Linked DNA regions of Homo sapiens: region 2 is linked to region 1. Evidence: fine-mapped QTL for protein levels in blood plasma. A gene starts in region 1. The other region holds a variant in brackets. All regions are shown on one strand. Distances are between the middles of the regions.

The links. PIP is the chance, under the fine-mapping model, that this variant and not a neighbour inherited with it causes the effect. Protein levels are from the aptamer-based SomaScan assay of Sun 2018.
Region 2: its variant is fine-mapped to the plasma level of the ADAM23 protein (Sun 2018, PIP 0.95).

What each region holds. Positions count from the first base shown.
Region 1 is chr2:206,441,309-206,446,692 of GRCh38, forward strand. ADAM23 (ADAM metallopeptidase domain 23) reads left to right here and starts at 2,224. Exons shown (of 26, transcript NM_003812.4): 1 at 2,224-2,772; 2 at 3,999-4,216. The coding sequence starts at 2,559. RefSeq lists a silencer at 2,669-2,798.
Region 2 is chr2:206,531,610-206,536,993 of GRCh38, forward strand. The region is part of intron 4 of ADAM23 (ADAM metallopeptidase domain 23); the gene reads left to right. Among named protein-coding and RNA genes, the nearest start is that of ADAM23, 91 kb to the left of the region's middle. The variant C/A (reference allele first, on the strand shown) is at 2,224.

The DNA of each region.
Region 1 (5,384 bases):
GGTGCGGTGGATCACGCCTGTAATCCCAGCACTTTGGGAAGCTGAGGTGGGTGGATCACCTGAGGTCAGGAGTTTGAGAACAGCCTGGCCAACATGGTGAAACCCCGTCTCTACTAAAACTACAAAAATTAGCCGGGTGTAGTGGCACGTGCCTGTAATCCCAGCTAATCCCAGCTACTTGGGAGGCTGAGGCAGGAGAATCGCTTGAACCTGGGAGGCAGAGGTTGCAGTGAGCTGAGATCGCACTACTGCATTCCAGCCTGGGTGACACAGCAAGACACCATCTCAAAAAAAAAAAAAAAAAAAGAAAAAAAGAAACTATATTGAATCCTCATTCCATACCCCAAGTGCATGAAATGATGTGTTGTAACTGGTGGGTGGGTTTGGTCAGTCCAGGTTGGCTGATAGGTTTATTTATCAGAACAGACTTTAAGAGGTTGTCACTGAATTGCAAGAGATGCCTTTCAAGTAACTTGCATCTGGGTGCTTTGCACCTTTCATTTCCCTCTCCCTTCTCATTGCTTGTACATCTCCTTTCTGGCTTGCTTTCTCTCAGGCCCTTTTTCAGGATGCATATTGTGTCAAATATAAATTTGGAAAACCTAGCCAGAGAATACTTGACTTGAGGGAGACAACCCTAAGAACATTGACCTGCAGTGGGCACTCCGGTGGGGCTAGAGTGTTCACTAGCCTGCCCCAAGTGTGACTTCTGCTTGTGTGTATCACCCATTTCTTTATTCATTTAGTACATATTTTCCAAGCGATTTCTCTGTGCCTCAGACACTGTGTGAGGTCCTAGGGACACAATGGTGTGCAGAAGGGAAAACTGTTGTTGCCCTCACATGGGGGAGGTAGCAACAATTACAAATTTACAGGAATAAATATGTGATAATAATATCCTAGCTCAACATAGAAAGGAAGTTATCTCAGTATTTACCTAACAGTTTTGTAATGTGTGTGTGCGCGCGCGTATATGTCTTCTTCTTTTCTCTTTGTTAAGTGTGAGTGGAGAAGATGATGGCTAACACTGAGTTCTGTCATGGCCATGGCACTTTTATACCCACATTCTTTCTTTTAATCATGGAATTCTCCACCCCAGCCCTCACCCCGTGGATGTCGGAGTAAGACAACATTGTTATCACTCAGATTGTCATTGGGAGGGTGAATAAATGAATGCTTGCATTATGAGAGTTTGGGGGCAGAAATATGCCACAGACTCTTATCTGAAGCCATCAGATTTAGTGGCTGCGAACCCACCGAAGTCAGGGATTTACATTTTTTACAGCAACGAGAGAAAACTTCCCCTTTCCTCTGCAGAAGTCAGGACTGGATCTCAAAAATAGAAATGTGTCCTCCTAAATGTGTGCCCATCCCCGTGGTTGACAAACAACGGATTTCCCAAGATAGCTGCCACACACTTGGTTTCTAATCTCTGTATTGCTTCCCCGCCAGAATGTCGAAGTCCTTCCCGAATATGCCCAGTCATACTTTCTGAACTTTTGAGCAAACACCGTCCGGCTTCTTGTGCTTTCCTCAAAGACCCCAGGCACCGGCAGGGAGGACACAGGCCGGGGCAGAGCGCCCCTGCGCGGGGGATTCCTGCCACTCCGCGCCAGCCTGCGGCGCAAACGCTCTTCTCAGCCGCAGTCCCACCCGCTGCTGGCAATCTGAATGAGGAGCCGCGCTATTTTTACCTCCCCGGCTGCAATCCTTTATATTTACATGCAGGAAGCAAATATATAAGGGATTAAGAAGGAGATGCGTGGCCTTAGTTTATCCAGAGCAGGAAGAGGTTGGAATAGGAGAGGGTATGTGAAGTCTGGGGTGGTGGAAAAGGCAGGTGGACTTCGGCTGGTTGTTTTCTCCCGATCATCCCTGTCTCTGGCCTGGAAACCCCCGTACTCTCTTTCTTCTGGCTTATCCGTGACTGCCGGCTCCCCCTCCACCGCCCCCATCTTTTGAGGTACCACCCGTCACCTCCGATGCTGCTTGGGCTGCTGCATCACTCTGCTGCTTTACCCCCTTCCCCGCCCCCCAACAAAGCATGCGCAGTGCGTTCCGGGCCAGGCAACAGCAGCAGCACAGCATCCAGCAACAGCATCAGCACCCGAAGCCCCGCTCGGGCGCGCTCTCGGGGGGCGGGGCGCACGCCCGCTCCGCGCGTCCCCGCGCCGCTCGCTCCCGCGCGTCCCCGCGCCGCTCGCTCCCGCGCGCCGCCTCAGCATCCTCAGGCCCGGCGGCAGCCCCCGCAGTCGCTGAAGCGGCCGCGCCCGCCGGGGGAGGGAGTAGCCGCTGGGGAGGCTCCAAGTTGGCGGAGCGGCGAGGACCCCTGGACTCCTCTGCGTCCCGCCCCGGGAGTGGCTGCGAGGCTAGGCGAGCCGGGAAAGGGGGCGCCGCCCAGCCCCGAGCCCCGCGCCCCGTGCCCCGAGCCCGGAGCCCCCTGCCCGCCGCGGCACCATGCGCGCCGAGCCGGCGTGACCGGCTCCGCCCGCGGCCGCCCCGCAGCTAGCCCGGCGCTCTCGCCGGCCACACGGAGCGGCGCCCGGGAGCTATGAGCCATGAAGCCGCCCGGCAGCAGCTCGCGGCAGCCGCCCCTGGCGGGCTGCAGCCTTGCCGGCGCTTCCTGCGGCCCCCAACGCGGCCCCGCCGGCTCGGTGCCTGCCAGCGCCCCGGCCCGCACGCCGCCCTGCCGCCTGCTTCTCGTCCTTCTCCTGCTGCCTCCGCTCGCCGCCTCGTCCCGGCCCCGCGCCTGGGGGGCTGCTGCGCCCAGCGGTGGGTATGGCCCCGTGCCCTTTGCGTTGGCTTTCCCGCGGGGCCCTGCAGAGGAAAGCGAAGGGCGCGCGGGTCCGTGTGCTCCGGGCTTGTCCCCGGCTCGGCCTTTCCTTCCCTCCCTGCCTGTCTTTCCACCCTTCTCGTTCCCAAACCCCCATTCATCCCAGTTCACTTTTGGAAGTCCATTTCTGTTGCATTCGCGAAAAACCCATTCCAATTCTTGTTGGTTCCACTGGGAGGTGTTTAGTGGATCCTGGGTCCCTCAGCGATCTCTGTGCAACTTGCGGAGGGGCAACCAGTGGATGGGAAATACAGCGAGGGAGCAAGTTGCTACTTGCGTGGTGGAACCTTAATGTGAATGCGGGGAGGATGTAGTGATAATAGTGGTAATGGGCTGTTTCCTCAAATTTCGTATCCGGCGCATTCAGTGCGGTTGGAATTAAGGTGGGGGAGGCACACTTCGGGGACCAAAGAATTAAGGTGCTGAAGACATACTTCATGCACGACCTTTGGTTCTGATTTCTCAAAGTGCTTGTCATTATAATGAACAATTAATATAATACCATCTTCTATATATTGATGATTGGAAGTCACTGAAAGCAGAAAGCTGGCTTTGTCAGGAAAATAAAAAGAAATTGGGAAGCTGCCAGCATCTGTATCCCTACATGGCAAAGTATGTTTGCTCATCTTAAAGTTAAAAGAGAAGGGAATTGTCCATTTTGTTAAAAGAGTCGATTAATATTCGGTATCCATAAATTCAGTACTCAAGTTATCTTAGGAGCGTTCTTAGCTCTTGGATGGGATGCCACTAGGCAGAGTAGAGTTGTGCTTCTGTGGACTCAGAGAAGGGGTGGAGATCGGGGGCAGGACCCCTGAACATGTTCATTTAATGACTCTTCTTCCCTCAAGTTCATTCTACCCCCCCCCCAACACTTAGAAGTATAGATTTGAGTCTGACTAGAAATGTATATATAAGACATAAATCAAAATAAATAGTGCACAGTTGTATAAGCCTTATTGGCTATTTATTAACTTCTCCAGGCCATTTTATTGTTGAAATAACTTGCTTTACTCTAGCTCTACTTCTTAACTGCTTATAAATAGAAAACTTTGTGTTTGAAATTAAAGGAAAAATGCATTTTAGTGCTTATGTATTTATGGGGTAAATATGTGTGTGTTTGTGTATGTTTGTATTTTCTGCTCCCCCACCCCCCTACCTCCACCAGCTCCGCATTGGAATGAAACTGCAGAAAAAAATTTGGGAGTCCTGGCAGATGAAGACAATACATTGCAACAGAATAGCAGCAGTAATATCAGTTACAGCAATGCAATGCAGAAAGAAATCACACTGCCTTCAAGACTCATATATTACATCAACCAAGACTCGGAAAGCCCTTATCACGTTCTTGACACAAAGGCAAGACACCAGCAAAAACATAATAAGGTAGGCAGGAGGCTGGCTATGCAAAAGTAACTATCATGAAGAGTTTTCCTTTGATTTGATTTTCTGCCAGAATCTGAGTTCACAAATTTTACTGCAGCATTTTATTAAGAAAGCAATTAATATTATGATAGGGGAGAAACTGGAAGGAATTAACTTGGGATCTACTGGGATAAGACTGTTGTTTCTCTTCTCTGACTAAACTGGAACTAGAATTTTCTGATACCTGAAATGATATCCATGTATCTTTCAGGTACATTGGGCACTGAACAGTAGTTAAGTGAATGTGTTTATGATTCTAACTTGTTTCTGTGAGGCTTTATGTAAGGGTGCAGTATTCTGCCTTGATATAAAACTGTCTCCCATGATATAAAAACTGCTTTCAATCTGCACATGCAAGATTGCTTCAAGAAGCTATTTGGCTGCAGTGTCTCCATCAGTCTTTCCACTTAGAAATTGAGTGTTTAAACAGTCTGTTTCTTTAATTGATCAGTAGGAGGAAAAAAAAATTTTCTGTTGTATTTTCAATAGGTAAACAATTTGACATTTAAAAAGATTATGGTGACTAGACACAAATTATTTGCATAATATGAAGACCAATTTTGATTGGCATAATTCTTCAGTACCTACTCTGCATTGATTATGAGCAGTTGCTTTACTTTCAGGTTAGTTCAGAAAGTGGAACTGATATTTACCAAGGTATCAGTAGAAGACAAATGTTTAATATCCAAAGAGTTTAAGGGATCTTTTTCCCTGTGTTACTATTCTTTACTTGAATTAATATTATTTTGAACCCCGAGCAGATTTAAACAATGGATTATCGGTTCTTCTGTTGTTTATCGGGAGCAGAAAATAGAGTCTGTATGTTAAATGTTTCATTTTGATCTGTACTTGTTCAGGTGAGAACAACAGTTAGCAATTAACTGTCTAAACATCTAGAATTTAAGAAAGTATCTGCAGTTTACATCATTGTTTTTTATTAGTTTTCTAAAATATAGGTGAGTGGTAACAGTATTTATCCCCATTTTACAAATGGGGAGCTAGAAATTTAAGGCTTTTGGGTGATTTTCCTATGTTGTAAAGCAGCTAATATAAAATTCAGGTGACCTGAATGTTTAATTTTTACTATTTTTTACAAGTTAGGTCTCTGAGAAAGTGCTTTCTTCACCTT
Region 2 (5,384 bases), 90 kb after region 1:
TGTAAGAAACAGTGACCTCCGTCAGTCAGGGTGAAGATCCCCAGAATGGCTACAGAAAGAAACTCTGACTTCTAGGGAATCAACAAGTGCCACTGAACCTGAGCAGTGTCCCAGTTACTGGGGACACCAGAAAGGAAACAAAGTGGGGAAACCTCACTGGATTTTTGTTTGTCTTTTTCCTAGATTGCTAACACATGTCAGCATAAAAGTAGCACCTTTCCCGTATGTGGACTTGTGCCATATAGGTAACTGGGATTTTCAATCTGATGGCTTCTCAGCAAATGTTTATAGGTGTCCTTCATTATAAATACTGCTCAGGAGGCCCTGGCATGTCTCAGGATTTATAACATTTCAATTTGTAATTGGACGTGTTTTCCAGCCTTTGAGTTTTGTGCCACAGATTAAGAACTTTCATGTATCATTCTTATTAGTTGTCAGTTCTTGCCTTAGGTTGCATTTGGGGGTTGTTGAGTCTCCCTAAAAGTTAGTGCTGTGGAAAGTGAGCAGAAAAGCTAAATCAAGCGCGGGAACAAGCTTCCTGGCATTTGTACAAACTGAAGCTTCTGTCAGCTGTGCCAGGGCCCTGAGCACTGCAGATGCTGAATCATGAGCCTGGAGTAGACAAGATTGCAGGGAACTTTATAGACTCAGCAAACGAGCCACATTTGCAGGACACAGAAACCTGATCCAGACTTCTCACTAAGGCACTTAGTTACTTTTTTTTTTTTTTTAAAGAAACAGAATAGCTAATTGGCCTCCAGAGGTCATTTGAGGTCCCAAAAGGAGACCTTATCATTAATAAGACACTCCAAATCTGATATCAGTTGTAACTAAAACTTAAAAGGTATTTCAACTCTAGCAAAAGAAATTGTGTTCACTGCAGTTTGTTTTTGTGTTCACTGCTTTTCTCTCTTTCATGACCCATTTTCTTCAAACAGCTCATATACCCAAACTTACGTGCTTCATAGATAATGAACTAACAGTCTGTTTTTTATGTGTCTGTATTTATGTACATCAGAAAAACCCAAGATGATATGGTGCACACTATTTTATATCAAGATTTTTTAAATGTAGCAAAATTTTAAATATTTTAGCATATATTAAGTAATCTTCTAAACCTTTAATTTTTAAAAATTTCATAATATTATTTCTAATTCATTTGTTATAATATGTTTAAAAATGCCATGGTGATAGACATTTTGACTCTTTCCAATCTTTCACTATCCGAATAACTTCAAGGGAAGGCCTTCCAGATACGTTTTGAATACATCCCTTATAATTGCTTCAGAATTAATTCTGAGAAAGGAATTTTCTGGGTCAAAGAGTTGGTACAATTTTTTAACACTCTTCATATATATTAACAATTTTTATTTCTGAAAGTTTGTATAAATTCATATTCCCACCACCATTACATATATATATATATTTTTAAAGCATTTGTAAATAAACTTCATGAAGATTGTCTTTTATGCTGCTTCAGAAAATCTTTGTACAGAGTACCAGAAAAGGAAATTAATATGTAAGAATGGCTAGGTTAAACTTATTTTCACATAATGCAGCCTTTTTTCCCCTAAAGATCTCAAATTGTTTTTTTTATTTTTATTTTTTTGAGATGGAGTTTTGCTTTTACTGCCCAGGCTAGAGTGCAGTGGTGCAATCTCGGCTCACTGCAACCTCCACCTTCTGGTTTCAAGCGATTCTCCTGCCTCAGTCTCCCAAGTCGCTGGGATTACAGGCACCTGCCACCATGCCCAAATAATTTTTTTTGTATTTTTAGTAGAGACGGGGTTTCACCATGTTGGTCAGGCTGGTCTCGAACTGCTGACCTCGTGATCCACCCGCCTCAGCCTCCCAAAGTGCTGGGATTATAGGCGTGAGCCACCGTGCCCGGCTCAAAGATCTCAAATTGTTTAGAGAAAAGTACATGCACACATTGTACACACACATGTAGACACACAATATTTTCCACGTAACTAAAGAACAGTCTATTTGGCTATGAAGTTAAATGTGAATGTGGATATTGACAGCATCCCAGGAATTAGTTGCAACCATACTTTGCAAAGAGGGTTGTCTAGGTTTTCCCATTTCACCACTAACAAGCCCCTCTCTCATTCTTACTTCTCACTAAGAAAAGATTAATGTCTTGGCTTTTACTTTTATTGCATGGACATGGGTTAAAAGTGCTTCTTTCCATGTGAAGCAAATATAGGAGCTCGAGAGGTC[C/A]AAAAGAAGCGTGTAATATGAATGCTAGGTATCAGTCCAAGAATAAGGAAGAACTTTTGTTCTGCACTTGATGGAGCAATAGCTTTTGTTTAAGTTCCTACCAGTGCTTTGCACATAATATATAATAAAACTATTTTGTTGATTTTTTTACAACTTTAAAAAGTAATTTATTTACTTTTCTTATTTAAACAAATTTATTGGGATATAACTTATGTATCATAAAGCATATAATTGTTTTTAGTATATCTACAGAATTGTGCATCCATCAACATAATCTAATTTTAGAATATTTTCATCACTGCATAAAGAAACCACACCACCTGTTAACAGTTGCTCCCCAGTCTCTCTTTTACCAACCATAGGTAACCACTAATCTATTAATACTTTCTATCTCAATAGATTTGCCTATTCTGGACATAAATGAAATAATATAATAGGTGGGCCTTTGTGACTAGTTTCCTTTTTCGTCCCTAGTTTTAATGAGATATAATTGAAAAATAGAAATTACATATATTTAAGGTATGTAACTTAAATTGTATATATAGGAATTGTATGTATTATTCAAAACATCAGGTTGATATGTTGGTACATTGTGAAATGGTCACCACACTCAAGCTAATGAACACACCCATCACCTCACATAGTTATCTTTTTTTTTTTTGTAGTGAGAACATTTAAGATCCACCCTCTTAGCATGTTTCAAGTACTATATATTTGTTGACCAACTTTGCTGATGAGCCTATTTAAATAAGTTAATTTTTAGCATTTCAGTTCTTATAAAATAATAAGCATCAACAAAACACTATGAAAGTACTTTTCAAAATTAACATATTTCTATTAAGTCTTTTTTGGTGAGCTGCTAATACATATTTGTAAGTGCTTACTAATACTTTGATTTCTCTTCTGCTTACGTCAGCAGTCATGATGAATAAATAGATGAAGTGCCTCCATCCCAACTTCCCTCTACCTTATTACTATCATTATTAGGTGGGGAAGGCTTCTTTTCCTAGGTCTATTTCCTCACCCTGGCTTCTTCCTATTCCGTTGCTCATTCTTGCTCAGGGAAGGAAGAGCGGCTTGACTGCTGGGAAAGTATGTCTGTGCAGCCAGTTCCTCCCTCCCTTTTTTTTTCTTTTTTTTTTGTAGGATCTACCTTCCTACAAGAAGAGTACATTCTCTCCACCTTTCTCTTCTCTGAATTGTACTGTGGCCACCCACATGTGTGTATGTGGCTGGGGTTAGGTTGTCCCACATTGTCTCTGCCTGGGTGGGTAAGGCTAGCTACTCCTGGGTGCAGCATTAGCAGGCCTATTAGATTCTCAACTAATCCTCTCCTCCAGTATAGCTCTATAATAAATGAAGGTGACATTTTGATGTTTCAATTCTATGTCACTCTCTCATTTAGTTTTAAACTTGGGTGGGCACCAATTCATACCTATGAGGATGGCTATAATGAAAATGATGGACAATAACAAGTGCTGTCGAGATTGTGGAGAGATTGGAACCCTCATACACAGCTTGTGGGAATGTAAAATGTTGTGTGGCTGCTTGGCAGAACAGTTTGGCAGTTCCTCAAAAAGTTCAACAAAGAGTTACCATATCACCCAGCAGTTCTACTCCTAGGCATATACTCAAGTGAATTAAATACATATGTCCACAAAGAAACTTGTACATAAATGTTCATAACATTATTCATAGTAGCCAAAAGGTGGAAACACCCTAAATGTCCTTCAATTGTTGAAGGAATAAGGGAAATATGGCATATCCACATAGTGGAATTACTATTCAGTCATAAAAGAAATGAAGCACTGATACATACTACACCAAAAGATAAATCTTGTAAACATTATGCTAAGTAAAATAAGCCATACACGAAGGGGCACATATGATACGATTCTGTTTATTTGACATGTCCAGAATAGGCAAATTCATAGGAACTGAAAGTAGGTTCATGATTGCCAGGGCCTGGTGGAGTGGAGGGGAGGAGAAATGGAAACTGATTGCTAATGGTTACAGGACTTTTTTCTGAGGTGATGAGACTATTCTGGAACTACATAGTGGGGATAGTTATACAACTCTGTGAATATGCGAAGAAAAACACTGAATTTTATACTTAAAAAGGTAAACTTTATGATTTCTGAATTATATCTAAATAACAACAACAATAAAAAACCCAGGTGGGGAATAAGAGTTTATTTACCCACCCTCTTCATCAAACAAGAATCCTTTAGGATTGGTCTTGTCACATATGCTCATGAATAAGCCATTCCTGTTCATTCATTAAACAAATATGGTTTTACTGTATAGCATAATGTCCTTTAGGTCTACCCATATTTGGCAAATGCCAGGATCTCCTTCTTTAAGGCCGAATGCTATTCCATTGCGTGTGTGTTTGTGTGTGTGTGTGTGTTGAAATAAGCCAGACACAGAAAGAAAAATATTCTGTGACCTCACTTATGTGTAGAATCTAAAAAAGTCGAATATGTATTTATGTTGGTGCAAAAGCAATTGCGGTGTTCGCCATTGAAAGTAATGTCAAAAACCACAAATACTTTTGCACCAACCTTATAGAACAGTGGTTACCAGGGGCAGGAGGTGGAGGGGTGGGAGTGGGGTGGTGGGTTGGAGAGATGTAGGTCAGATGGTACAAAGTTGCAGTTATATAGGCTCTAAGTCTAAAGATGGAATGGATAGCATAAGGGCTATGGTCAGTCATATTGTATGATGGGAATTTGCTAAGAGAGTAGATTTTAGGTGGTCACGCCACACGCTTAAAACGTAACTGTGAGGTAGAAATAAGACATGTTAATTTGATTGACTATAGTAATAATTTCACTATGTATATCAAAATATCATGTTGTATATTTTAGATATACACAACTTTTTTTTTTGAGACAGTGTCTCACTCTGTTGTTCAGGCTGGAGTGCAGTGGTGCAATCTTAGCTCACTGCAACCTCTATTTCCTGGGTTCAAGAGATTCTCCTGTCTCAGCCTCCCGAGTAGCTGGGATTACAGGCACGTGCCACCACGCTTGGCTAATTTTCGTATTTTTAGTAGAGACGGGGTGTCACCGTGTTGGCCAGGCTGGTCTCGAACTCCTGACCTCAAGTGATCCACCCACCTCAGCCTCCCAAAGTGCTGGGATTACAGGCATGAGCCA